Linked DNA regions of Homo sapiens: region 2 is linked to region 1. The links come from fine-mapping of genetic effects on gene expression. A gene starts in region 1. The other region holds a variant in brackets. All regions are shown on one strand. Distances are from middle to middle.

The links. PIP is the estimated chance that this variant, and not a neighbour inherited with it, causes the effect.
Region 2: its variant is fine-mapped to the expression of PPP3CA-DT in whole blood (INTERVAL, PIP above 0.99).

What each region holds. Positions count from the first base shown.
Region 1 is chr4:101,346,565-101,349,064 of GRCh38, reverse strand. It overlaps PPP3CA-DT (PPP3CA divergent transcript), which reads right to left and starts at 1,288. Exons shown (of 2, transcript NR_033874.1): 1 at 1,056-1,288; 2 at 182-741. PPP3CA (protein phosphatase 3 catalytic subunit alpha) reads left to right here and starts at 1,539. Exons shown (of 14, transcript NM_000944.5): 1 at 1,539-2,326. The coding sequence starts at 2,269. RefSeq lists silencers at 1,304-1,913, 2,384-2,500.
Region 2 is chr4:101,308,576-101,311,599 of GRCh38, reverse strand. The region is part of intron 1 of PPP3CA (protein phosphatase 3 catalytic subunit alpha); the gene reads left to right. Among named protein-coding and RNA genes, the nearest start is that of MIR1255A, 20 kb to the left of the region's middle. The variant A/T (reference allele first, on the strand shown) is at 1,294.

The DNA of each region.
Region 1 (2,500 bases):
ATTTCTTTTGGCTTCATCTCCCAGCTCCCTAAACTTTTTTTTTTGTTTTTGTTTTCTTTGTGTGTGTGTGTGTGTGTGTGTGTGTGTGTGTGTATTTTAAACCTTTTATTGGACCCGTGGTCCAATTGAGGAAATAGGAAAAACCTGATACTGAAGGACTTTGGAAATAAAACAGGAAACATGAAGGGTGAGAAATTTATTCAGATTTCTTCATAATTCCCCCCAAAAGCTCCAACCACGTTGCCAGTCCTTGGGTGCTGCAGTTGGTCGGGGAGAGGGGCTGTGTGGAGGTCACCTTCTGGTAGACGGAGACCCGCTTTTCAGACTCTGTGGCGCAGCAGGCGGGCCAGGAACATTTGGGCCACTATTGCTCTTAGCCCTGCCGCGCCTGACTTTCTCTCCTCTACTTTCCTTCCGACCGTAGGGACAAGTGTGGGGATCCGCTTTGGGCTCCAAGGCCCTGCCCGCACTGGCAGCACCAAGCGGGTGTAGAATGACTGGAAGGAGCAGGGAAGGAAGATGGGTGTCAACTGTCCCGGCCAGTGGCTGCGTGCATGTGTGTGTGAACAGGGAAAAGGCCACCCTCTCCCATGTTTCTCCCGTCTCCTCGGTTCTCCTCGGAGACCCGCAGGGCTGCCCGAGGTAGCTCCGAGTTGCCCTGGGTCGCTGGGGCTTGGTCCGCATCCTCCTCCGCTAGTCCGCTCCCGCGTTCCACAGCGCCCCGCCGCTCGGTGTGCACGCCTGGGTGGGACACAGTAACAGCCCCTAAGCCGCCAACGCAAAAGCAAAAACAACCGTACACCGCATCGCAGTCGTAGCTCTTCTCCGCAAGGTAAGTTGTTTATTCGTCGCCGTTTTGGCGATCCTCCCTGGACAGCTGCGGCAGCGACGGCAGCTGCGCCGCGGGCGCCGAGCTCCCAGCCTCTTCCTTCCTCCGCCCTCTCAGGGCTGCCTCTCACCCCCACCCTCTTCCCTCCTATCCCCGCCTTCTCTCTTCTTGCCCTCTTGTGGGCCACGCACACACCCGGAGACACCCTCTGCACTTGGCTACTCACACTGCGGCTTAACCCAGCCGACAAGGCACGCTTGCCAAAGAGGCGCGGGTGTGTGTGTGCGGGGTCCGCGTTCGGAGGCCAAAGGAGGGTGGCGTGGTAGAGCCCTTCTCCTCCTGGCCGCGACGCCTTGCCCACTCTCCTGCCCTAATCTCGGCCTGCCAGCAAAAGTGACACCTGAGCAGGGACTGGTCCGTAGAGGCGGCAGGCCCGCTGGTCCGGCAGCTGGAAGAAAACAGAGCAAGGGGCGGGGACAATGAGGAGGAGCGGGAGGCGGGACAAGCGGGGAGGCCGCCACCTGGCACTGAGTGATGCGCCCTCTAGCCAATGAACGCGAGGAACTCCGGCGTCGGGGCGGGAGGTCGGGGGCGGGCTCAGTGGGGAGGAGGAGGCTGCAGGCGCGCAAGAGGCGGGGGCCGGGAGGAGGAAGGGGAGGAGGCGGAGGCGGGCGCGGTGTTGGCGGCGGCGGCGGCGGCGGAGGGGGGTAGGTTGTGCCCGGGACTGTGTCTGCCGAGCTCGGCGGCTGTGCCTTGGTGAGTGGAGGAGCGGCGCGGGGAGGCAGAGGCGAGCGCGGGCGATCGCGGCGGCGGGACGTCTCCGGCGGCCGCGGCACCAGCGGCGGCGCTCTGTGTGGAGAAGCAGGGGCAGCGGCAGCAGCAACAGCGGCAGCGGCAGCAGCAGCGGCAGCAGCGGCGGCCGCCTCTCCGCCGCCGGGGACGCCAAGGTGCGGCTGGTGGCACTGACATCGGCGGCCCTGCCTCTCCTCCCTCGCCCCCGGCCTTCCCCATGTGATCGGTCTTAATCCTGGCCGTGTGTGCGCGCGTGGGGCTCCATTCCGCGGTGCTGGGTCTCCGTGCCGGGGTGGGTGCTCGTGTGTGCGCTTCTCCTCCCCATCCCCCTTCCCCCAAGAATAAAAGAAGAACCGGGAGGCGTGCTCAGAAAATAAATAAATAACCACCACACACGCGCAGCCCGGAGCGAGTCGGCGGGGCTGGCGGCAGCGGCGGAGGAGGAGTGAAGGCGGCGGCGGCGGAGGAGGGACGCGCGGAAAAGGCAGCAACTTTAAAGCCAGCTCAGAGCCTAGACCTCCAGCCGAGCGGTTTGCAGCGCGGCGGCGGCGGCGGCGGCGGCGGCGTTGAGTGTCTGGCCCGCCGGTCCGGTCGGGGTGTGCAGTCGGACGGACGAGCAGCGCGTCGCTGTCCTCCGGCAGCTGGAGATGTCCGAGCCCAAGGCAATTGATCCCAAGTTGTCGACGACCGACAGGGTGGTGAAAGGTAAGCGGAGCGCCGCGGTGGCCTGGGTGCACCGTGTGCCGCAGGCGCCAGGGCAGCTTGCCTCGCCTCGCCTTTCCTCCCCTCCCCCGCCCCAGGTTCTCCTCTGTCCGCTCCAGCCGCGGACCTTCTAGGATATTGTGCAACCCGCGAACCCCGCGAACCCCCCGCCCCCGC
Region 2 (3,024 bases), 38 kb after region 1:
CCGTGTTGGCCAGGCTGGTCTTGAACTCCTGACCTCAAGTGATCTGCCCACTTTGGCCTCCCAAAGTGTTGGAATCACAAGCATAAGCCACTGTGCCTGGCCAAGAGGTGGTATCTTAATGTTTAGTATTGCCTTACAATATAGAGAGGCAGCATGGCTTAGGGGCCAGAACACCTAACAAATAGCTACAGACTTCAGGTAACTTATTCAGTTTTCATGATTTTTAAATATCTCCTTAGATAAATAGGGATAATACTATCAAGCTGATAGGGCTGGTTGTAAAGATTAAATGAGATAATGTAAAGAATAAAGCACAGTGCCTTGTCACATACTAGGCACCAAACAAATTTTAATTCTCTTCCTCCTAAAACAGAGAAGAGAAAAATGATAGGAGTGTAAGAGAAGAGGAAAATTAAATAAGTGGCATTGTGTTTACATAACTTTTAAAAAACATAAATTGATCTCTTGGAGTTTAAGTTATACTTGGATTTGCAAGCTAATAAGAAACCCTGAAGTGAAGGATTCTTCACTATTTCTTTTCTGTGAATTATTAACGTAAGTTAGAATTGTCTAATTTTTGATTTTTAAGTTAGTCTCCTTCCATAAAGCTTATTTATTTTTTGCTTCAAAAATGTGTTAATATTTTTCACCATTCCATTCAATATTAATTACATTTTGTACTCTTTAGGATGATGACTTTGAAGTTGTTTGCTGCTTTCATTTTAAGTACATTCATTTAGGTGAATTGCCAAGTACATTTATAGTTTTTATTTAATTTGAATAAGATCCTTTGCTCAAAAATGTTTGTGCTTTCATTGTATTGAATTTTGTTGTGTATTTTATTCTCAAGAAATTTTTTGGATTTCAGTAGTTTCACTTTTCAAAATTAAACAAATTTTTAATTTTACTTAATTCTGTTGTTATTTCTTCAGAGTGTTTCTCTCTGTCACTTAGGCTGGAGTGCAGTGGCGTGATCATGGCTCATTGTATTCACTAACTCCTGGGCTGAAGTGATCCTCCCACCTCAGCCTCTTGAGTAGCTAGAACTATGGGTGACACCACTCCTGGGAGATTTTTTATTTTTGTAGAGATGGGTCTCACTATGTTTCCCAGACTGGTCTTGAACTTCTGTCCTCAAGTGATCCTTCCACTTGGGCCTCCCAAAGTGATGAGATTATAGGCCTTTTTTCTTTTAAAATGTAGTTTATATAATTTACTATTTCTGTTCTTTGCAAGATACAAGTATCACTCTTTTTGAAAACCCTTGAGGTCTTGTGTGATTACATTAATAAT[A/T]TCTGTGAGTCAAGTTGATCAATATTAAGATAGAACATAACCATCATTATTATTGGTTACTGAGAATTCGTGGTATTTCGATTTAAGCCTTAGTTTTATAGCATTGTGTTAATTATGAGAAATTCATTTTAAAAACCTTGGCAGTGAAAGGTAGAAAAACAGGAAGTTAATTATGGGAAGCTTTTCTTTTTACTAACAAACACAACAATCAGTAGTACTACAGCTGAAGAGAGTACAACTGGTATATTTTAGTTAAACGAAAGTAGATTTTAGATACCATGATAATTGATTGGGTTTTCTCTTTATTTACACACTGATCTTTTCATTTGAAATACTGTCTCAAGCTTTCTAGGACACGGAATACAGAATTAAAATGTTGAATCAATCATAACGTGTCGTTGATAAATACGTACTTTCTTTTTAAAATAGGGGAATGTGTAGCACACTATTTTTCTACAATATTTTTTGTTATTAAGTTGTATAAGAATATCCTATAGAAACATTCCATTGTATCACACGTTAGAGAACAGTGTCTCTCTTGGTTAATTCTGACTGCTTGACCATTCTTAGGGAGACTGCAACAAGAATCAACCAACACAACATGTGGATATCTTTTTTAAAAAAACGTATAATTGGAATTTTCACAGGGCCCTACATGGCAGATATATATTTTTCTGTTTAGCTGCTTTATTTTCAGGCAGAACAGCACATCTTTCTTTATAGTGTTCCAATTGTCCATGTTTAAGAATGTTTTCCCTGAGTCCTAGAACAAGATGAGTTTATGGAACTGTGCAGTGCCACCTCCCCACCCTCTACCACCCCCCACCCGCTTTGCTTTTTAGTTTCAAGTGTTTATATGAAACCTACATCACAACATAACTGCTTTAGAAGCCTGGCTGCCACCTCTTCTGAAAGATTATGTTTCTTATAGTCTCTTATTTATGGATTATTATCAAGTAGAAAGCTTTGTCATTTTATAATATCCCCAGGAATAAAGCCCCTTGTAACTGGAAGCAACAGGAAGTACCAAGATAATACCTGATGTGTAGTATCGTTTTGTTTCCTTTCTGTTCCATAGATGACAAAGGCCTTGCTATCAAAGTACAGAAAAGGGATGACAGAGGAAGGTGGGGCTGGGGTTGGGAAGGTTTATTATTATTATGATTATTATTATTGTTTTTGAGACAGGGTCTGCTCCTTCACCCTGGTTGGAGTGCAGTGGTGCAATCATGGCTCACTGTAGCCTCAATAGCCTAGGCTTAAGTGATTCTTCTGCCTCAGCCTCGCAAGTAGCTAAGACCACAGACGCACACCACCATGCCAGGCTAAGTTTTGTATTTTTTTGTAGAGACGGAGTTTCCCTGTGTTGCCCATGCGCCACAATGCCCGACCAGGAGGTCTTTGTAGAAAACTCTGGATTCCTTTTTCTGGGAAGTATCTTCCTCTTGCTAATGGAAAAATGTTTAATCTTATGTATATAAAATTTCACATTGCAGAAAGTATGTTTTACTTGAATTATGAAATTTTTTGTGACTACAAAATAAATGAATTTTGGCTAACACTTTATTAAAAATAATTATGGGCCAGGTGTGGTGGTTCACACCTGCACTCCCAGTGCTTTGAGAGTGAGAGGACCTCTTGAGGCCAGGAGTTAGAAACATAGCAAGACCCTGTCTCTGCAAAAAGTTAAAAAGTTAGCTGGGTATGGTGGTGGGTGCCTGTAATCCCAGC